Homo sapiens: one gene and its partners. The protein of the gene in region 1 interacts with the protein of each later gene in a biochemical or structural test. Each region holds a gene or a part of one and is shown in the gene's direction. Other genes may lie near its edges.

Region 1 (7,393 bases):
TTTAAGAGGAAGCCACAGAGAGGCCTGGGTTCAAATCCCTCCTCTACCCTTAGCTGATTATTCATGAATCTGTTGGACAGGTGTGTGCCAGGCACCAGGACTAACTCAACAAACTGAATAAAACGGGACAAAAACATGGTCTAACCCTGCGAGCAGTTCACCATCCAGCGTGAAAGCCTGGCAGGGAAGGAGCACATCTCCAAAGACGTAGTGGGAGCACAGCAACCACAGCCCCATCCCCTCCCCTGCCCAAAGAAACAGCCAGGGGAATGGGTAGAAGCAGCAGAGAGGACATGGGAGCCAGGACACGAATTGTCAGCTTTAGCCCCTCAGTTTCCCAGTTTTTCTTTTCTTTTCTTTTTTTTTTTTCAGACAGGGTCTTGCTCTGTTGCCCAGGCTGGAGTGCAGTGGTGCAATCGTGGCTCACTGCAGCCTCTACCTCCCCAGGCTCAGGTGATCCTCCTACCTCAACCTCCTGAGTAGCTGGGACTATAGGCCAGCACCACCACACCCAGCTAATTTTTGTATTTTTTGTAGAGATGGGGTTTTGCCATGCTGTCCAGGCTGGTCTCAAACCCCTGGGCTCAAGCGGTCCACCCGCCTTGGTCTCCTAAACTGCTGAGATTACAGGTGTGAGCCACTGCACCCAACCTCCCTCCTTTTTTCAAGGGTAGGGGACAGCATTTCTGCTGGGTGAGTTCCTCTCTTTTGCCAGTGGGATTGCTCCTGGCAGCAGTGGGGTCTAAGGGCAGGCAGAGAGGGCTGGGCTGGCCTGGCCTGAGGGCCCACCTCTCTCCAGGTGACAAAAGTCTCTGCTGCCCTGCAATAGACACTGGGGGGCGGGGCATGGGAATGAAGGAGGCACAGGGCATATTTACTCCCTCCCTAAGACTCAGAGTCTAAGGGAGGTGGGGGAATGACTGGCGATGAAGAGATCAGATGGCAAGGGTCTAAATCAGGGGCCATCCTCATCTCCTCCCAGCCCGCAGCCCCTACAACTCTCACTCCCGCCTCAGGCCTAGGCTCCTGGGCAGGGCTGAAGGCTGCCCCTCACGCAGAGGATCTGCACCCCCAGCCAGCTTCTCCGGGAAGAGTTTAGTGTACAGTTCACTCATTCATTCCACCAATGTTTGCTGAACTGCTGCTCTGAGCCGGGCTCTGAACTTAATGAGCAAAACTGAAGATGAGCAAAAACAGCCTTGGTCCTGGCCTTCACGGGGCAAGATGACAGTCTCATCGGGAAGAGGGACAGGGCTCAGATGGTCACAGACATAGGCCAACAAGACAACTGCAAGCAGTAAAGCTAGAAAGCACAAAAAAAGGAAAAAGGGAAGGCCCCTCTGAGGAAGGGAGGGTTTGATCTGTGACCCCATGGAGGAGACCTCAGCCAGTGCTCGGGAGGAAGAAACGCCTCAGTGTGGGAGGGAGAGGGGTTTGGGAGAAAACCCCCAAAGGCCAGTGGCTGGAGGAGGAAGAGGAGGCAGAGCCAGGCTGCCATAAAGGGCCGGGGCCCTGGAAGCCACAGGGAAGTTGAGCCTCTAACCTGAGTGAAAGGCGATCAGTAGAAGGGGCACGATCTGCGGGGGTGAGGGAGGCAGGACCCACGTGGGAGAGCCCAGAGTGGAGGCTATCGCAGAGCCCAGGCAAATGATGGTGGTGTCAACTAAATAAGAAATCAGCCTTTTGACCAGGTGCAGTGGCTCACGCCTGTAATTCCAGCACTTTGGGAGGCCAAGGTGGGTGGATCAGCTGAGGTCAGGAGTACGAGACGAGCCTGGACAACATGGAGAAGCCTCGTCTCTACGAGAAATAAAAAAAAAAAAAAAAATAGCCAGGCATGGTGGTGGGTGCCTGTAGTCCCCACTACTCTGGAGGCTGAGGCATGAGAATCGCTTGAACCCAGGAGGCAGAGGTTGCAGTGAGTTGAGGATGCACCACTGCACTCCAGCCTGGGAGATAGCAAGACCCTGTCTCAAAAAAAAAGAAAAAGAAAAAATCCACCTTTTGGCCAGGCACAGTGGCTCATGCCTATAATCCCAGCACTTTGGGAACCCAAGGCAGGCGGATCAGCTAAGGTCAGGAGCCTGGCCAACATGGTGAAACCCTGTCTCTACTCAAAAAAAAAAAGCAAAAATTAGCCTGGCATGCTGGCATGTGCCTGTAATCCCAGCTACCCGAGAGGCTGGGTTGGGAGAACCTCTTGAACCCGGGAGGTGGAGGTTACAGGGAGCCGAGGTCACACCACTGCACTCCAGCCTGGGCAACAGAGTTAAACTCCATTTCAAAAAAAAAAAAAAAATCAGCCATTGAAAAAATTAAAGTTAGTTTTATTGAGTCTTACTGAGGACTGCACCCTGGGAGAGGGTTTCAGAGAGTTTCTGTTAGACTGCGCCAAAGCAGCATTTCAGCCCACAGTTTAGATACAGAGGCAGGCGGTTCTGTGTGTGCTCAGAAGCTATGGTCAGGCACGGTGGCTCACGTCCGTAATCCCAGCACTTTTGGAGGCTGAGGCGGGTGGATTGCTTGAGCTCAGGAGTTTGAGACCAGACTGGGCAAACACGGCAAAACCCCTTCTCTACAAAAAATACAAAAAAAAAAAAAAAAAAAAAAAATTAGCCAGGCATGGCGGCTCTTGCCTGTAGTCCCAGCTACTTGGGAGGCTGAGGTGGAAGGATCACTTGAGCCCAAGAGGTGAGCTGTGATGGTGCCACTGCACTCCAGCCTGGATGACAGAGCGAGACCCGGTCTCATTAAAAAAAGAAGAAGAAAAATTTACATCAAATGTCTTCAGAAGCTACACTAGTGCAAATCTCGCCAAGGTTTGGGTTCGAGGATGCACCTAGTTATATAGATTATAGAGGCATAATCGTCAATCCTGTCAGGTGCTATCTTATGTACAGGAAAAGGCACAGCCAGGATCATTTAACTTATATTTTCTAACAATGCAGTGATTCAGGCAAGAGGCGTGGGAGCCTGTGTTCTGCCCTGCCTGCCATCTTCAAGGCATCCTTCCGTTGGGCTGCCCCCAGTCACTGAGTCAGGGCTTTGTCAGCTTCTGACAAGCAGAAAGAGCAAATGCGGTTTCTTGGGATTGCAACTTGGTCTCACAGTGGCTTAGGCCAGGGTGGGAGCAGTGAACGGAGTCACAAAAGAAATTTTTCAGGTAGCATTCACGGGTGGGTGCTGGATTAGATGCAGGGCTAAGGGCAGGGGAGGAAGCCTGGGTAATGGAAGGCTGCGGGGCCAAGGGGGGACTGGGAATCCTGGAGGGCCAGGTCTGGGGGAGAGTTAGGAGGTCGTGAATTTGGACTTGGATGCTTGTTGAAGCTGATGCATCTTGAGGACATTTGTGGGACACATAGGCTGGGTCAGGGCTGAAAGAGGTGCTGGTTATGGCCGGGGGCAGGGACTCATGCCTGTAATCCCAACAGCCCAGGAGGATGAGACAGGAGGAATGCTTGAGGCCAAAATTTCGAGGCCGGAAGTTCCAGACGAGCCTGGGCAACACAGCAAGACCCTGTCTCTAGAAAAGGAAAGAAAGAACCGCTGGTTGTGGAAGCCAGCCATGGCCCAGAGCTCAGCAGTGTAGGAGAGGAGGGTGCGGGCCTGAGAGAGGCAGCAGGCTTGGCTGGAGAGGCAGAAGGAAAACCAAGGCAGGAGAGTGTCCTGGAAGCTGGGAGAAGGCAGAGGGAGATCGAGGCTTACTTTCTGGCTGAGGGGCCTAGGGTGAGTCACTTTGGGAGGCTTGATTTCCTCCTCTGTGAAATGGGCAACACACCTACCCTTGCCCACCTCACCCCCCTCACCCCGTCGACGTCGAGTGAGGAGCAGCTGTGAGGAGGAGGAAGCTTTGCACAGACGTGAGGACGGCCCCGGGCGCCTCTACCCCGGGGACACCCCCCCCCCCAGGAGATGGAACCCCGAGGGCACGGCGTGGCGGCCCATGCGGGCAGCTCGCGTTAGGACCCAGCGGCTCCGGGGCTGGAGGGCGGGCGCCAGCCCCGTCGGGGGCCCGGAGGGGGACTCGGAGCGGGCCAAGGGGCGGCTCCGGCGGGCGGACTCGGAGCGGGCGGCGGAGTGACCCGGACAGGTAGGCGCGGGCCTGGCGCTTGGGGGCCCCGGGGGGCGGTCAGGGGCGTCGGCGGGTCCCCCGGCGCGGGGGCGAGGGTGCCAGGCTCTCTGGGTCCTCGATCCTGGGGCAGCCGCGGAGGTTCCTGAACCCCGCGCCTTCAGAGCGGAGGCCAAGGGGGCACCTGGAAAGTTTGGGGTTGCTCTGCAGAGAGAACGCGAATTGGGAAGGGCGGGGAGCCCGAGTTTGGGGGGAGCCAGAGGTGAGGTCGTCGGGGGATGGGACATCTTTTGTTCTCCCGGGGAGGTTGGAATGTGGCGGGTGGGGTGGGGGGGGGGGGTCCGGTGGGAATGGCCGAGACAGAGACGCAGAGAGACAAAGAGAGATCAGAGACGGGAGCGCGAGGGCGCGCGGAGCAAGTTTCCGCGGCTGATTGTTCCCAGCTGTGCGGCGCTGCAACATCTGGGTTTCTCCCGCCGGGACCCCTCCCCCTGAGCCCGGCTCTGGAGCCGGCAGAGCCCTCCCTCCGTCTGATGTCTGAGCGAGCGTCGGGGCCCCCTGTCCCCCACCTCCCAGGACGCAGGGGAGTCGGGGGTGGGGGAGGCCGCAGCTGTGGAAGAGGCCAGAGGTGGGGGTGGGGCAGCCTCCCAGGCAGGTCCTGGCCTCCCGCACGCCCCAAAACCCCTTCGTCTAGAAGAGCTCGGAGATGTGGTCCCGTGGGAGGAGTTCATGAACTCCACACTGACTTCTCTCTTTCCTGCCTCCCCGCTAGCCCGTGGGCCTCCTTCCCCCAATAAGCCTGGGTTCGGGGGCCAGTCCTAGGGGAGGAAGACTCCCCGCAGGGTACCGACAGGCATCCCCCAACACCTTGCAACCCCTCTTGCCCCAATTCAGCGCCTTCTGCTGAGCAGCGGGGGCTCCGACCGACCTGACGGATGGGGAGAAGGGCAAGGAAGGCTCTCTGGGTCTTTTCATCCCCCTCCCATGAGGAGGTCAAGGGTTTTCAGAATGGGGTGTGGGGAGCCAGCTATCCCTCGCCTCTGGGGCAGCTTGGTCCTGAGCTTCGTCTCCCGGCTCCCACTCCACCTTAGTGAGGTGCCTAATGCATGAGAGGAGCCAGGGGGTCAGGAGGCCTCAGGATTGAGAGGAAGGAGGGAAAGACCTCCTGCTTTCTCCCCTTTCCCTCCCCTCTCCCTGGACTCCCAGTGGGGAAAATAGACCAAAGTTGGGGTTTCCAGCTAGCTCTCTGAAAGGACTTCCTGGGTTGCAGCCGGGAGGGGCCCTCCTGGATGGACCCCGCCCTCGCAGCCCTCCCTACAGAAGGCTGACGGACCTGAGGTGGCCCTCCACTGAGCTGGGGCTGGATGTGGGGAACCGGAGGCTCCCCCAAGTCCCACCGTGTAGCCAGGACTGGAGGCTGGGCTCTTGAATGTCAGGAGCCTGATGAAAGCCACGGACCCCATGCCCTCTCCCTCCAAATGACACACACACTTGCCTACAGTGTCAGGGGGTGCAGAACCCCCAGCCTGGGTGATGTCACGGCCCCTTCAGTGCTGCCTTTCTGGGATCCAGAGGAGCCCCCTCAGGCTTCACTCTCGTGCTTCCTGCTGCTGCAAATAGCCCGGGTCTCGTGAGCCTGTGATGCACACAGCCAGGTCTTGCGAGGCCTGGAGGCCTGGCAGGAGAGGAGTCTTCTGGGAGCTGGGAGCCCTGCCCGGCCTGGCCGCTCTGGGGGCCGGGCAGGCCCATGTGTATGTGGTTTCCTGCTGAGCAGGATGCTTAGGGCCCAGGGGCTAATTGGGAGCAGGTGGTGGCTTGGCAGAAGCTGCTGAGTCCAGGCGGTGATGCCGGCTGGCCAGGGCTGGGGTCCCAAGGATGGGCCTGGGTTCAGTGATTCACGCAGTCAGTGCCTTGGACACCCAGGGAGCCACTGGGCCAGAGGGCTGAGCACGGGTGTGGGTGAGGACAGAATGGCCTGGGCTGGGAGCACATTAGGAATGTCCCCTTAGTGAGCAGGGCAGGGTCCGCCCTTCCCTGACCACATCAAGTACACCCACTACACGGGGTTTGCTTGTCAGGATCAGCCCTGGAGCTGGGTTGGAGGCCTTGTCCCTTGTGACCTGAACACCTGGGTGGGCCAGCAGGGACTGGGATGTCCCTCCACTCCAGCCCTCCCATGCCTGGCTTCTATTCTGGGTGCCACCTTCTCCAGGGCGAAATCAGGGGATCAAAGGTGAGCTCTGCTGTCCTGGGTGTGGCCCTGGGTAGAGCTCTCCCACCGGTCTTTCCCCAGCTGTCCTCTCTGACACCACCCCGGCCTGCCTCTTTGTTGCCATGAGAGCTGCCTACCTCTTCCTGCTATTCCTGCCTGGTAAGTGGCTCCTGGGGCAGGGGGTAGCTCCTCTTATGTGGGGCTGAGGAGTAGGGTTAGTAGGGGGAATTCATAGTGAGCCTTTGTCACGACTTATGACCAGAACTCAGCTCCCCAGCTCCCAGGGCCTTCTGCCTGCTTGGACCACAGACTGGACCAGCCAACCCTGGCAGCATCTGGAGGCAGCTCCTGGCCCTTCCCCCAGCCTTCCACAGCAGCAGGCAGGCAGGGTTCTGGAGGGCACGTCCCAGGCACAAGGACTCCGTGGGCACAAGGCACAAGGCCTCTCTGGGAGCCGATGTGCAGGTGCAGGGGCACCCAAGGCAGGGAGTCCGGATGCTTGAGTTCTAGATCCATTCAGGGCCCTTCTGCTCTATACAGTCCTGACCTTGTGGGGGTCCCTACTGGCCAAATGAAGAGAATCAATGAGGACCACAAAAGTCCTAGCAGGGCCAACATTCATTCATTCAGCAGCGATGTGTTGAGTCCCTACCACGTGCCAAGTGCTGGGCTAGGCCCTGGGGATTCAGCGATGAACCAGGCAGACACATCGTTGCTCCTCATCATGCTGCCAGTCCAGGGAAGGGAGACAAATAGGAAACAAGCAGACATGAGAAACTCCAGCATGTGCTGAGTGCTGGACAGAAATCAGCAGGAGGGCTGGTGGGCTGGAGGTGGGGCGGCATCTTGGCACAGCTGAAATTCCAGGGAAGACCTGAAGGAGCTGAGCAGGCCTCACAGGCCCAGGGAGTGTCAGGTGCAAAGGCTCTGAGGGAGGCAGGAGCATGTGGAGTCCTAGGAGCAGCCAGGAGGCCAGCAACAGGAAGGGGCAGGGTAAGGTCAGGGAGGTGACCCATGACCAGGGTGGGGAAGGGTCTTTACCATCGAAGAAGAGTCTGGATCCTCTAGGAATCTGCTTGTGGGGTCCTAGGCTCTTATGGGCCTGACCTTGT
Region 2 (7,710 bases), on another chromosome or scaffold:
TATATAAATAGGTATGGTTTCTGGTAGCTGTGATATATGCATTACATTTTTATAACTACAAAATTCTACAATACTCACTAAAAGTCAGAAGCCAATTTTTGAAGATATAGTTGGTTGTATCATGAGTGATCTATTTGCCACCATCAATGGCAGGAACTGAGGCTACATGAAAGTCTAGTTAGCTTTTTGTGAAGTCATGATTTAGTTTGCAAAGGAAGACGTAGAAGCTGATTTTAGAGTATGCTTCTTCCAAGTAAAGCTTGAAAATGCTTTATTTCAGTAAGCTCTAAACATCTTGAGAGTTCTTGAGATGATGTAATGGACATCTGGATTTTTTTTTTTTCTCCTGACAAGCATTAATGCCCTTCAATTTTTGGTGCATGACCAAAATAGTGTTTTGCCCATCTTTTATAGATGAACCCTTTTCCCATGGCATGCAATCTTGTTGGGACTATCCATCAAGATACTCCATCATCCTTTGGCCAGGATTGTGCCCAAGTTCCCTAAATAGCTACGTCAAAAGGACCCTGTCCTTTGAATTTGAACTCCAAGAGGGGTGGCAAAAAGATGAAAATGGTTGGAATTGATTTACTCACATGACATCAGCCTGAAGAGGTTCTCTGCTTACCATTATCCCAGAACTGTACTACTCCCCATTTTATCACAAAGTCAAGTTCAATGAGCCATCTCATAACCTGATAATACTTAAAATATCTTTTTTTTTGCTGAAATTTTCCATAGCTAGTTTTCTTGCTTGTAGACAAAGAACCCTTGCTGACATAGATATTTATACAGGAGGTATAAAATGATGAGAGTGGCTTGAAGCTGAAAATGCCACAAGATTTCAATTGATCATCCTGGTTAACACGGTGAAACCCCATCTCTACTAAAAATACAAAAAAATTAGCCAGGCATGGTGGCAGGTGCCTGTATTCCCAGCTACTTGGGAGGCTGAGGCAGGAGAATGACGTGAATCCCAGAGGTGGAGCTTGCAGTGAGCCGAGATCGCGCCACTGCACTCCAGCCTGGGTGACAAAGCGAGACACTGTCTCAAAAAAAAAAAAAAAAAAAAGAAAGATTTCAATTGATCCAACAACAAACAAAGTATTTGTGTTTTGTCATAGTTTTCAGGACACTAGCAAGTTTCCTTGAATAAGGAATGCCACCTTGTCTTTAAGGATCTATCATACAGCTAGGGGGAGTAAGTACAATGGCTACAGAAAAAAAATATATATTTAGGTTGACGCCAAAGTAATTGCGGTTTTGCTAGTACTTTTAAATGGCAAAAACTGCAATTACTTTTGTGCCAACCTAATAGTTCACTATAGCAACAGAAGAAATATCCCTAATGTCCAGTGCCTGACATGGCACTTGGCATATAGTAGGCATACTATAATTATGTATTAACTATTAAGTGAATGATTCAGTTAATAAGTGCAATGATGTTAGAACAAGAGAGATGGGCATGAGCTAAAACACCTACGAACAAGAAGGAATCTGAGCAAGGTTTCTTAGGGTGAATAGAATTCTTTGAAATAAGGAGATGGAAGCAAGGAATTCTAGCCCATGGACTTAATTTGCAAACAGTGCAAAACAACCTATTACGAAAAAAAAAAAAAAAGTCTGTGATAGGTTTAAGGAGAGTTGGGTCCTCAATCATCTGGCATCAAGAAAATCTTATTGCAAAGACACAGATTTTTATTATTCGTTACTGAATTTTGTCATAAGTAGCATGCTACTCTAATACATGTTGATTGCCTAGATAGCGGGAATAGTTCTTGTATATTTAAAATGTATTTACTTTTAAGTAATCAAGTTCCCCCTGCTTCCCCTTCCCCTGTAATCTTCCACCATTGTGGTCAGAACATGAGACTTATTGCTCAAAGAGGGGAGTATATGGCTTGGAGCTGCCACCCAATATGAAGGAAGAATCTTTCCTTTATTGGAGAAAGAGGCCAATGAATAAAGAGGAGGTTGCCGGGGAAAGCAAAGGCCAGGTAAAAACGTTTAATCCAAATCCCTCCCTTGGAGGTGAAACCCTGGAAGGCAGTTTGAGTTAGAAATAATAGAAATGTCCAGAAATGTTGGAAGAGGGGACTTGCAGGGCACCAGGATTTGGCCTTTACTTCCTGGGCAGAAGCCTTAGAAAAGGCTTGTGTTTGGTTGCTGCTGACCAACATGTCACTGAGTGTAAGATTCTGAGAGAAAGGGCACAGCATGTCTTGCATGCTGCTGGAGTACAAGGAAAGCATGCAGTTTCCAGAGTCCCCTGTGGGTGCAGAGCAGCCCAGAAAACTGGTGGGCAGGACAAGGCCTTTCTGGATGTCCAACAGCCCTGCTTTCTCCTAATCCATGGTCCCTCTGCTCAGATCCTTTTCCCAGTGTGAATTACCTCCTTACCCCTCCCTACCCAGGGAGCTTTAAAAAATATCCATGTGAAGAATCCACTACAGACTACTCAAATCAGAAACTCTGGGTGTTGGGGCCTGGTGTCAGTGTCAGATTTTTTTTTTTTTTTTTTTTTTTTGAGGCAGAGTTTCACTCTGTTCTGCCCAGGCTGTAGTGCAGTGGCACAATCTCCTCTCACTGCAATCTCTACCTCTCAGGTTCAAGCGATTCTAGTGCCTCAGCCTCCTGAGTAGCAAGATTTACAGGCATGCACCACCACACCTGGCTAATTTTTGTATTTTTAGTAGAGACAGGGTTTCACAATGTTGGTCGGGCTGCTATTGAACTACTGGTCTAAAGTGATCCACCCGCCTTGGTCTCCCAAAGTGCTGGGATTACAGGCCCAGGCATGAGCCACCATGCCCATCCTGGTGTCAGAATTTTTTTAAAGCCTCTTATTATTTTACTGCATAGCCAGGGTTGAGAACTGCTATCCTAAGTAGAGTCTAGTTATGTTTTAGACTTAAGTTAAATATCACTTCCTCAGGGATCCCTTTCCTGATCAGCCCTAGCCTAGGTCAAGTCCCCTTGTTATATATCCTCCAAGCAAGCACCCAGTACTTATCCTGTTTGGCGCTTAACAATTGGTCCATTATTTGTTTCAAGTCTGCCTTTCCTTGTTGACTACCTGCTGTGTGAGGGGAGACACATTTCTGCCCTTTTCACTAAATTGTTGAAGTCAGTCGTGTTCAAATTGTTGAACCTGCCTTGTTAAAATTGTTGAAGTCTAGTTCAACAATGCACTAAGTAGTACACAGTTCGTGCTCAGTAAAAACATCTTGAATGAATGATCTCCTTTACTCAGCCAGGAGTGTGTGACCAAGGCTCTCATTCATGAATCTGCTAAGAGACCTTTTGCAGGTGAGACCTTAAAGTACACCACATACATACTTACAGGACTATGGCTTTAGATCAGCTCATAGTTCCCACAGTTTTTCTGTTTCATCTTCATGTATCACAGCAGTTCAGCATGTCCATCATCACCATTACAACCCTGTGTGGTGGACACTACAAGTCCCATCTTGTATTTGGAAAGAAGTTGAATAACTTGCCCAGGTCTCTCTACCCTACTGTCTGGGCCCCTTTACAAACGGTTACAAATAAGGAAAATCCCTTTCAACAAGATACATTCCCAGGGTACCTGTTTGTGCTGAGCTTTTATTATTGGCTTGACAGCAGGCTGGTGGCTGCTTGCAGGGGATCTTCTGGGGGTCTCCAGTTACAGCAGCCAGGACCCAGTGTGCGACTTCAGGCCTTCCTAAACTGTTACAGGGTGCAGGCATCATTGGGCATTATCCATATAAGGATGCCACAAATACTATACCTTTCAAAGCCACTAAATTCACTGTGCCGCGCATATCCTGGGGAGAGGCAGCTGTGTGTGGGGGAGGGCGAGGGGACCGGGAGGGTGTAAGTAGAGTCCTCCAGATGAACCCCAGTCTTAATCTGGGCTGGGCAAGAGGACCATCCCTTCACCGCTCCCATCCTACATCCTAGGTTCCAACATTTACAGGCCCCTGGGTTGGACACCGACTTAGAGAGAGCACCCTGGATTCAGGCCTGGGTGGCTTGAATTGAGCCTCAGAAGAGCCGCGTCTGGAGTGGGCTCTCGACACCCAGGGCAAGTGGGGGCGGCAGAGCCCTCTCCTCGGTCGGCACAGCAGCCTCTGCCGCGGTCCCGGCCTGCGACGCGCCCAGTCTTAGCCTCCCGGCCTCCGGCGTCTGCTGAGTGTCCGGCGGGAGAGGCGCAGGGAGCGCGCTACCGGGAGGCGCGGGCAGCGGGGACTGGTTTTCTCTCGGGCCAGGGCCTCCGGGGCAACCGTCTCCAGCGCGCATTCTTGGTGCAGGTGGAACAGCTTTCTGCTCCGGTAGGGCTTCACCTATCGCGGGAGAGGTTAATCTCGGATCTAAACCTCGCAGCCGCAGAGCGGGCTAAAACCGCTACTCCACCTCTTCCCATTTCTCCCCTCCCCACCTCAAGACAAAAAGTCCCAGGCCGGGCAGGACCTGATCACCTCTGCCTCCTCCCACTGCGCTAATCCTGCGAGCGAGAGGCCCCGCACCGAGGCGGAGGCTGGCAAAGGGGAGTGGAAAGGGAGGATGGATGGGGCCGGGGGGTGGGGTGGTGATGAGGGCGACGAAGGAGGGGGTGTCATTTTCTTTTTCTTTCTTTTTTTAAAAAAAGTATTTCTCTCGCGAGAAACCGCTGCGCGGACGATACTTGAAGAGGTGGGGAAAGGAGGGGGCTGCGGGAGCCGCGGCAGAGACTGTGGGTGCCACAAGCGGACAGGAGCCACAGCTGGGACAGCTGCGAGCGGAGCCGAGCAGTGGCTGTAGCGGCCACGACTGGGAGCAGCCGCCGCCGCCTCCTCGGGAGTCGGAGCCGCCGCTTCTCCAGTGGGTGCAGCCGGGGTCCCGACGGGGGTCGGGCGGCCACCGGGGCTGGAGCTGCGGCCACGGAGGCTTTTGCGTTTGCGCCGCGCCGAGGGCAGGGACAGGGACTGGGGTGAGGGGCTGTCCCGGAACGTCCACAGCTGGCGCTGGCCCTCCCCTGCCTGACAGCTTCCTGGCCCGGGGCTCTTGGTGCCGGGCTCCGCGTCAGATGTTCGGGGGGCGGTGGCATCGCCCGGAGTCGGCGGGGACGGCGCGGCTGGCTTCCAGCCTGGCGGAGAGGGCAGGCTGAGGAGTGGGGCGTTCAGAGCGCGCATCGCGCGCAATTCGTGCCGCTAAAAAAAATAAACCCAGAGAGCTCGCCCGGGGCTTAGGACCGCTGGGGATATGGGTACTTTGCGCCGCGCTCTTCTGGCGGGGCCCGGGAGGCCGAGGGATCGGCCGGGGCTGCTGCCGCCGGGGGCCTGGGCTTTCCAGCCAGCTGTGGACCAAACGGTCTTCCCTTACCCAAATTAACTGCGCCACGCGCAGGCGGCGCACGGGTTGGGCTTGGGAATGGGGACCGCGAGGCTTCAGCATCCCGATGCCCTGAAAGTCTCCCCGCCTCGGGGATTTGTCTCTGTGTTGCAGCTGGCAGGGGCCGCCTGAAGTGGGAGCAGCGCCTGGAGAAGGCGGGAGGAGCCCGGCCCGGGGGACGGGCGGCGGGATAGCGGGACCCCGGCGGCGCGGTGCGCTTCAGGGCGCAGCGGCGGCCGCAGACCGAGCCCCGGGCGCGGCAAGAGGCGGCGGGAGCCGGTGGCGGCTCGGCATCATGCGTCGAGGGCGTCTGCTGGAGATCGCCCTGGGATTTACCGTGCTTTTAGCGTCCTACACGAGCCATGGGGCGGACGCCAATTTGGAGGCTGGGAACGTGAAGGAAACCAGAGCCAGTCGGGCCAAGAGAAGAGGCGGTGGAGGACACGACGCGCTTAAAGGGTAAAGGAACCGGTTCCCTCCTTTGGTGTGGGTCTCCCAAGTTTCAAGATCCAGAACAACGGGCAGGATGACTCTCCCTGTGGAAGACTCCTTGGCAAGACCTCCTGGGGGCACCTTAGAGGTGCTAGGGTTGTTTAGTCCCCACCCCGTTCGTGGTTAAACTACCTTGCCCCTACTCCCAGAGATTTCTGCCCCAAAGGAGAGGACGTGGTTAAATGGAATCTTGGGCCATTGTTGAGGCAGATTTTGGGAGGCGAGAAGAGTTCCTTGGGGAAGAAGGGGAGGAGTTGCGAGTGGGATAAGAGGAGAAGCCCGTTCCTTTCCCTGCAATATCAATTCTGGTTGTTTCTAGAGGAAAGTACTTTCCTTGGGGTCATCTTGGTAGATGCTGTATTTGAAAGGGGGCAAGGAAAGGAAGGGATTCCCATGACAGTCAGAGGAGAAATCACACAGTAGTTGACTCTTCCGTAAATTATGCTTATTAAAATTACGGATTGGGTTTTCTGGGCAATGCTTCCTTTAGATGTCTACATTGGAAGCAGAACAGGGCAAGTGGTTCTGAGAACTGGTTTTTTGAGTTGTGTGGGGCTCTCCGTTTCACTGCAGCAGTAAGGCTGCTGTGGCCGGCCTTAAGGGAGTATTTTTAACTAGTGGTGTTTGTGTTGTGTACATGCAACTGACCATTTCACTGGCTTCCCATGCCGCTGTTACAGATGTTTCAGCCGGAAAAATTTTAATTAGACTTGACTAAGGGTTGTCATTTTCCTGTATTGAAGGACAGTGGGAATACATTTCCTTTAAGAGAAATTTGTCTGCAGTTGTTTAAGTTAAAGCCTCCATGGAAACAACAGGATGGACTGTCAGTGACCCCTTTTATCTTCTTGGAGGAGCCTGTTAAATAAATTCAGACAGTATATATAGGGAGATTTTGTATTAAATTCTTACCATTCTCGCTGATGCTCTTTTCCTGAGTGGTTCTGTAGCTTTATTATATAGCTCTGGGTCACCAAGTGATGGTATCCACTTGGATATGTGGCTGTTCATTTCACTTACTCTTTTTTTGTTATGAGGTGTTATAGTCATGTATATGTAGTAAAATTTGTGTTTGTATGGCCCAGATATGAGAAGAAAAAGTAAACTCACCAGACCAGTTTTTGACTCCTAGTCTGGAGTAAGGACAAGATGATTGTATGAGCCAAGCACTTAGGCTGTGATAAAATAGCACAGAAAATAGTTATGATTAATTCGGTTCCATCTTGGCCTTCGTGGAAAATAAACCCAGAATTCCGATAATGTTGGAAGGAAGTTTGCTTATCATGGTAAACCTGACCTTGATCAGACAGCAGATGTTTATTGCCCTGTGTGCAAGGCACATGGCAAGTTCAATAAGTAGACTGAGGCTCTGATTTTCATATGTTCTCAAGAGGACCTCATTTAGTCCAGTATTTTTCCTTCAAAAATACATTTCTCCTACATAATAATATCTTAATATCTATTCTGATAGGATTGCTCCTGTATATAAAGGACGTGGGGATTTAATTCTGTGGCTGAAGATCTGCAGAGAGGTGTGAGGCCTGGTCAGACATTTGTCTCATTTCTCTGGGCTGTCACCAACTAGTGTGTTCCCTTGGGAATGTGAAAAAAGAAACTAAGCTTTACTTTGTTGCTTAACAGGATGCCACACTTTTACTCACACTTGTGCTTTTTCTCTCTGGTTTTAAATTTGTTTGTGATTATAGAGAGATACCTCTCTGTGCTCCTCACAGTATTTGATCATTAACACAGACCTTATCCTATTGTAAACTATTTATAAAGCCTTCCTAAAAACAGGGTATTAATAGAATTGTAATTATGTGTGTTCCTAATTCTCATGTTAATTATAAGATTTTATAATAA
Region 3 (7,000 bases), on another chromosome or scaffold:
TGTAATTTGATTTGGAACTTTTAAAAAATTGCTAATTTATCAGTTGGTTTTATTATCATTTAAATTTTCATAAAAGCATCTCTAGCTGGTTGAGAGATAAGAGAGTTACTGCTCAGAATATTTCAATAAGACTAATCCTACAACAATGTTTATTGTTTTTTCTCTGTAGGAGACCAAGGTTTTCCAGGTACAAAAGGATCACTGGGTTGTCCTGGAAAAATGGGAGAGCCTGGGTTACCTGGAAAGCCAGGCCTCCCAGGAGCCAAGGTATGCAAAAATTCAAGCTATCACAGAAGAGAGGGTGGGTGACCATTAACTGGCCAGTTTGTATGCACTTATCTGGCAGAGCACTCTAGATGTAGAAATGATCAATATATTTGTAGATGATGAAGATATTAAATTTTTTAAATGTTTCTCTGGATCATCTTCCATTTTAGAAAGGAAAACATAAGGTGTCAGAATGCAGATTTCATCGTGATATCATCTTTAATGGTTTCATAAATAATCAGAGTATTTAAAATGGGACAACTCTAGAAAGAAATGTGGTTAGCTATAAGAAAAACTATCAAAAGTAAAAACATCTAGATTTTTCTCTTTATAGACAATCCCACAGTCTTCTGAAAAAGTGGAGGCTACATATCCTGAAGTATTATTAAACATAATCTTACAGAAAAGTCAGCAACTAGAGCTCAAAAAGGAAAGTTGATGACATGGTAGTGGCTGTGCAACAGGGACTTAGAGCCTCCATAACAGAGAGTCAATATCAGTGAAGATTTGGAAGCACTATATAGTAATAACACAATTTCTATGCTGTAGGGAGAACCAGCAGTAGCCATGCCTGGAGGACCAGGAACACCAGGTTTTCCAGGAGAAAGAGGCAATTCTGGGGAACATGGAGAAATTGGACTCCCTGGACTTCCAGGTCTCCCTGGAACTCCAGGAAATGAAGGGCTTGATGGACCACGAGGTACAATAGCAAGTGTCATTACTTTTCTCCACTGTGAGCTCTGCTAAAATGCAGCAAACTGAATGTGAAGGTGTTCTAGGCATGAAGAATTCTCCCATCCAATGTTCCTGCCCTACCTTTCTTCCTTCTTTCCTTCTTCCTTCCTTCTTTTTTAATGAGTGCCCTCTAGAAAAGGCATATTAATGGCAGTAAATATAGATCTGATTTAGGTGGAAAAAAAGTTAACAGAAGAATGACTGGTACAGCAATACCAAGACCTTAAGTTCTAGCACCTGGGTATATACTTGTGCTTTCTTTTGCAGGAGATCCAGGGCAGCCTGGACCACCTGGAGAACAAGGACCCCCAGGAAGGTGCATAGAGGGTCCCAGGGGAGCCCAAGGACTTCCAGGCTTAAATGGATTGAAAGGGCAACAAGGTAGGAGGAGGGCCTCAAAACTGGCCACCAGAAGGGCAGGAGACATGAGACTCCTGCTCTGTGCTTTGCTGCTTAACATGGGAACTGTCCAGCCACAAGTCCTGACCACTGTTCAATGAGAAATACTTCAGAAGTGTAAACCTTGCTGTTATGGGTTTGTTGCACACAGTAGTGTGTACCACCTATAAAGGAAGAAACTTGAAGTTAATATAGTGAGTTGCTTTGTGTCTTTTATGCAAGAAAAATATGAATGCTGAAGACAGAGATTGGTGTGTGTTTACATATATTTATATACATATTAAATTCTCAGAAAACATTTTACCTTTAATATTTTCATAAATATATTAAAGTGGTAAGTTTATCCTTATTATTAAAATAGGGTAAATGTATGCAATGATACCAGTTTAAAAACTTATAAACTAAAATATGTAGTTGATTGTTTTACATACAATATAAAAGAAAAAACATGAAAATAAATCTAAATGATGCAGGCTAGATGTTCCAGATGATGGAAAACTTTGTTTTTGGATCCTCTCCTCATCAGATCTGATGAACTGTTCCTGGAAAAATGTATTTAGAAATCAGTTAATGTCTGTGGTCTATCATACTGCTTATATGTTCACAAATAAATTTTTGACCAAGACCTTAACTGTTACAGTGGCATTATTATTTTTTCCAGAGGCATCCAGTGGCTTACCTCTATGCGAACGGCTCTGTATGTCTTCTGCAGGAAACAGAGTGAGCAGCACTCATAAGGTGCAGTCCCAGAATGTGTCTGCAGGACTAGAAAATAGATATAAAGACTACACTTGTATTACTGCATAAATCATTGGAGCAGAGAATGTTAGAGCCAGAAGGGAGCTCAGAAATTTTACAGAGGGGACATTAAATACATACACACACACATGCGCACGCATGCGTAAGTGTGCAGTTACCCCAAATCACAAAGCTAAATATTTACAGCCATAAAATATTTCTAAAGTGGCCGGGTGCAGTGGCTCATGCCTGTAATCCCAGCACTATGGGAGGCCGAGGTGGGCGGATCATTTGAGGTCAGGAGTTTGAGACCAGCCTGGCCAACATGGCAAAACCCCATCTCTATTAAAAATACAAAACTTAGCTATGCATTATGGTGCACGCCTGTAGTCCCAGCTATTTGGGAGGCTGACGCAGGAGAATCACTTGAACCAGGGAGGCGGAGGGTACAGTGAGCCGAAATCGCCCCACTGCAATCCAGCCTAGAAGACAGAGGGAGATTCCATCTTAAAAATATATATATATATATATATATATATTTCTGAAGTTAGTAGGGGAAAGCATTTGTGGGTTAATTAATTCATTCATTTATTCGTACACAGGCAGAAGAGGTAAAACGGGGCCAAAGGGAGACCCAGGAATTCCAGGCTTGGATAGATCAGGATTTCCTGGAGAAACTGGATCACCAGGAATTCCAGGTCATCAAGGTGAAATGGGACCACTGGGTCAAAGAGGATATCCAGGAAATCCGGGAATTTTAGGGCCACCAGGTATCCTTTTGTGTGTTTCTATTTTTCTTCTTATTTCTTCTTCTTCTTAAGGTGGCTCTGTCAACTGTACATAGGCATACGCTTTTTACTCTATGCTTTTACTTAATATAAGGTTTTCCTTCTAAATTATTTGTAAGAAACCAGGGGCCATGGTGCAGGGAAACGGTGGCGGCAGGATGAACAATTACCCAGAATGTGGCTATTTTTGCTGTGTAATCCTTTTTATATACGACTACTATAATATACTTGCTAGTATTTTGTTGAGAATTTTTGCATTTATATTGAGAAGGGATATTGGTCTGTAGCGTTCTTGTGATGTCTTTGGTGTTGGTGTCAGAGTAATGCTGGTCTGATGGAACAAGCTGGGAAGTGTTTCCTCCTCTTGTATTTTCTGGAACAGTTTGTGAAGAATCGACGCTCTTTAAACATTTGGTAGAATTCACCAGTGAAGTTATCTGGGTCTGGGCATTTCTTTTTGGGAAGTCTCTAAATGACTAATTCAATCTCTTCATTTCTTATAGGTATATTCAGGTTTTCTATTTCTTCTGGAGTCAGTTTTGGTATTCTGTTTCTCTAGAAACTTGTCCATTTTTATAAGTTATCTGATTTGTTGTTGTTGTTCATCATATTTCTGTATAATTGTTTTAATTTCATGGCTATGTTTATTGTTTATATGTTTGGGGAGAATATTCTGTTCCCTCATGGCATAAGGACCTCACCGATCTCCCCTCTGGAAAAGAGCCTAAAACAACTTAATCGACACATTATCCTTTCATTCATGTTATTGGGCTACTATCACATGCCAGCATTCTTCTAGGCCCTAGAGACACATCAGTCAGTGGACAAGTCTCCCCTTCTCATAGTAGAGGATCAATAATAGAAATATTTAAAATCTAAGTTCAATTTGAGACAAGTGTTATGAAGAAAATAAAGTGAAGGGATAGAATAGAAAGTGACTGGTCAGGGGCTGGGAGGATGGAATGCTCCAAAACTTCCACATATGCTATCCTCATCCATGAATATGATTTGCTACCAATCACTTCCACATAGGTGAGTTTAAAAGACCACTTACCGACCCATCTCCTAGACTAATACAGTAATTGTACTATGTACAGAGGCCATTTTTTCAACTCCCAATCTCTGCTTCTAAGTATAATTTATTTTAGTATATGGAATATTTTGCTTTTCTCACTCTGTACAACACGTGCTGCTTTGTGTTAATTTGTTTCCATAGGTGAAGATGGAGTGATTGGGATGATGGGCTTTCCTGGAGCCATTGGCCCTCCAGGGCCCCCTGGGAACCCAGGCACACCAGGGCAGAGGGGTAAGTGATAGAGTGTCTTTCTAAATAGCAGGAAGCATAAACAATGTTCATTTATTTTGCAGCAAAAAAAGTTATGTTTCATTGGAGGGAAAAATAGTTCTGAGAGAGCAACAGTATTTGATTTTGCTGTTTTCTATGTTCCTTTTCTCCATTTGAATGGAATCCTGTTTTCTGTAGGCTTACACCACTACCCTTATGAGGCTGCCTGCCTGGGGAAACTATTTATCAAGTTCTCAGCACTGTTAGCCTTTTTTGTTTGATTTGTTCTGTTTTATAGTAAGCACTGCCAACTTTTTAATCCCTATGAACTACCTGAAGAATTAAGGACCTGATGTTGTTACTCCTGTCTGTTAGGGAGCCCTGGAATTCCAGGAGTAAAGGGCCAGAGAGGAACCCCAGGAGCCAAGGGGGAACAAGGAGATAAAGGAAATCCCGGGCCTTCAGAGATATCCCACGTAATAGGGGACAAAGGAGAACCAGGTCTCAAAGGTAAAGAATTGCTTGTTTGGAATCAGGACATCAGAGCTGATTCTCAGGCTAATAAATTATCCAGGCAAATCCGTTTGGTTGACAAATAAGGACAGTGAGGGCCAGTGTTTAGTTACCTGCCCATCACACAGCCGGTTGGTGGCTGAGCAGGCCTTAGAACTGAGTCACCTTCCACGACATGTTGCCTCCTCGATGTGTAACATTTTTATTTCTAAGTTAATTCTGCATTTTAATTTGCTATATTTAAATCATCAGCAGTCAGTTTTTAAATTATAAGCCTCAAAACTCCCTCTTTGCCAAGTATGGGGAAAATTAAACCCTTAAAAAAATTCCACATTAAAAAACTTTTCTGGCTGATGTTGAAACCTCCATCTCAAATTCAACTTTATTCTGTAGACTACCAGAATAATATTTTCTGATTCTATCTAAAAACTTCTTCTCCTGTTCAAAATCCTTTGGAGAATAATTACTAAAAAGAAATGCTTCAATGAAAATTTAACCCTTTAGAAAGACTGTTGTTAGATGTGGCTACTAGGCTAAAATTCAAACCCATTCACATTATTTCAAGTTATTTGGGCCCTTTTTATGGCAGTTTTCATGATATGATCAATACGACCAATATAAAACCAAATTTTCAGAAGCCCTCCCTTGCAGTCTTCTTGACCAAATGTAATCCCAAGCAACTTTAGAAAAACAGAGAACTGCTGGGTAAAATATTACATTTGCAGATCAGACTCTCATAGCAGGAAAGGAATAAAAGAAAAATGTATCATGGCAAGAAAGGAAAAAAGAAAAATGTGTTTGCAGTTGCAAAACCATGTTAAGTTTTGAGATATTTGAAATGACTTTTGAGAAATGAGACTGTGTTCAACAAATATTTATATGCATGGCACATGAGGATGTAACAAACCTTCACATGTACTGCCAAACCTAAAAAAAAAAAAAAAAAAAAAAAAAAATTTGCACAGGGTGCTGTAGACTACAATATAAAGGCTGACTAACTGGCAAGTTAGGAAGTAAAGGCCTTCTATGTACATAGTCCTCATCTAACCTGGTGTTGAAGAGACACTTTAGTTCTGGTACAAAAAGAATATTGCATTTCATTTTTAGCAATGAAAAAGAAAGTAATGCGACTTTTATAAAACTCTGCTAGGACTAGTCTAAGCCAAGATATGAAAAAAAAAAATACTGGCACCAATCTCCAGTCCTCATAAACTGTCTGCATAGACACCACTTCACTAGACTATTTTAGATTATTTAAGTAGTGTTAGAAACATTTTGGAAAAAATATGAATAGCATATCTCTGCCTACATAAGCAGAAATTTGGCGCTCACAGTATAAATGCGCAGTGAGTACTAATTTGCAATTGAAGAATTCCTTTTGTAAAGTACAGAAGGACACATGATATGGGGCTATTTCTATACTTCCAACAAAACTCTTTTACTCACCCTAAGTACAGTATGCATCGAGGCTGTTCTGTATGTTTTCTTTAGGCTTTTCAAATGCATAACCAAGGGACACAGATTGAAGAACAACAAAAAAATAACCTGTATCTAGGCCTCCCTAATTTCAATATGATCCATTTATTTTTCTAAATCTGAATTTCTGACTTAAAGCTATTCACTTCAAATGTGGAAGAGATATTGAATATACAGAGAAGCACAATAACAAGTCACTATCCTCTCCACAAGGAGGCTGCGTGGCAGACTTAGGCATATGTAGAAAAAGATAATAAAGACGCGAGGTGCAAATTAGCATGCTATATTATTTAACAACGACCTAAGTAGCATTTACCATGTGCAGGTACTGTTCCAAGTTTTACAACTATTGACTCATTTAATCCTCACAATAACCCTAGGAGTAGGCTGGGCACAGTGGCTCACGGCTGTAATCCCAGTATTTTGGGAGGCCAAGGCGGGTGGATCACCTGAGGTCAGGAGTTCGAGACCAGCCTGGCCAACATGGCAAAACCCCATCTCTACTAAATATACAAAAATTAGCCAGGGTGGGCGGGGTGGGGAGCCTGTAATTCCAGCTAGTCAGGAGGCTGAGGCATGAGAATCGCTTGAACCTGAGAGGCAGAGGTTGCAATGAGCTGAGATTGTGCCACTGCACTCCAACCTGGGCAACAGAGTGAGGCTCTGTCTCAAAAAATAAATAAATACATAACCCTAGGAGTAGGTACTACTATTGCAATCATCCCATTTTACATACGGGGAAATAGGGAGGTCAAGTTACTTGCCCAATGACACTCTGATAGGAAATGGCAGAGATGGG

What was found. The genes of interacting proteins can lie anywhere in the genome.
Region 2: the proteins of MFAP2 (region 1) and FBN1 form a complex in vitro, tested with the Homo sapiens proteins (one study listed by BioGRID).
Region 3: the proteins of MFAP2 (region 1) and COL4A3 form a complex in vitro, tested with the Homo sapiens proteins (one study listed by BioGRID).

Annotation. Positions count from the first base shown.
Region 1 is NC_000001.11:16,977,284-16,984,676, reverse strand, and holds the start of MFAP2 (microfibrillar-associated protein 2 isoform a precursor), read left to right. Parts: upstream 1-4,056; 5' UTR 4,057-4,090; intron 4,091-6,362; 5' UTR 6,363-6,403; coding exon 6,404-6,440; intron 6,441-6,881; exon of another isoform or gene 6,882-7,008; intron 7,009-7,393. UniProt on the Homo sapiens protein: Component of the elastin-associated microfibrils.
Region 2 is NC_000015.10:48,642,710-48,650,419, reverse strand, and holds the start of FBN1 (fibrillin-1 isoform a preproprotein), read left to right. Parts: upstream 1-4,710; 5' UTR 4,711-4,845; intron 4,846-5,449; exon of another isoform or gene 5,450-5,469; 5' UTR 5,470-5,650; coding exon 5,651-5,814; intron 5,815-7,318; coding exon of another isoform or gene 7,319-7,385; exon of another isoform or gene 7,386-7,710.
Region 3 is NC_000002.12:227,279,624-227,286,623, forward strand, and holds part of COL4A3 (collagen alpha-3(IV) chain precursor), read left to right. Parts: intron 1-169; coding exon 170-267; intron 268-816; coding exon 817-967; intron 968-1,269; coding exon 1,270-1,383; intron 1,384-2,080; exon of another isoform or gene 2,081-2,166; intron 2,167-2,741; coding exon 2,742-2,909; intron 2,910-4,143; coding exon 4,144-4,233; intron 4,234-4,587; coding exon 4,588-4,722; intron 4,723-7,000. UniProt on the Homo sapiens protein: Type IV collagen is the major structural component of glomerular basement membranes (GBM), forming a 'chicken-wire' meshwork together with laminins, proteoglycans and entactin/nidogen.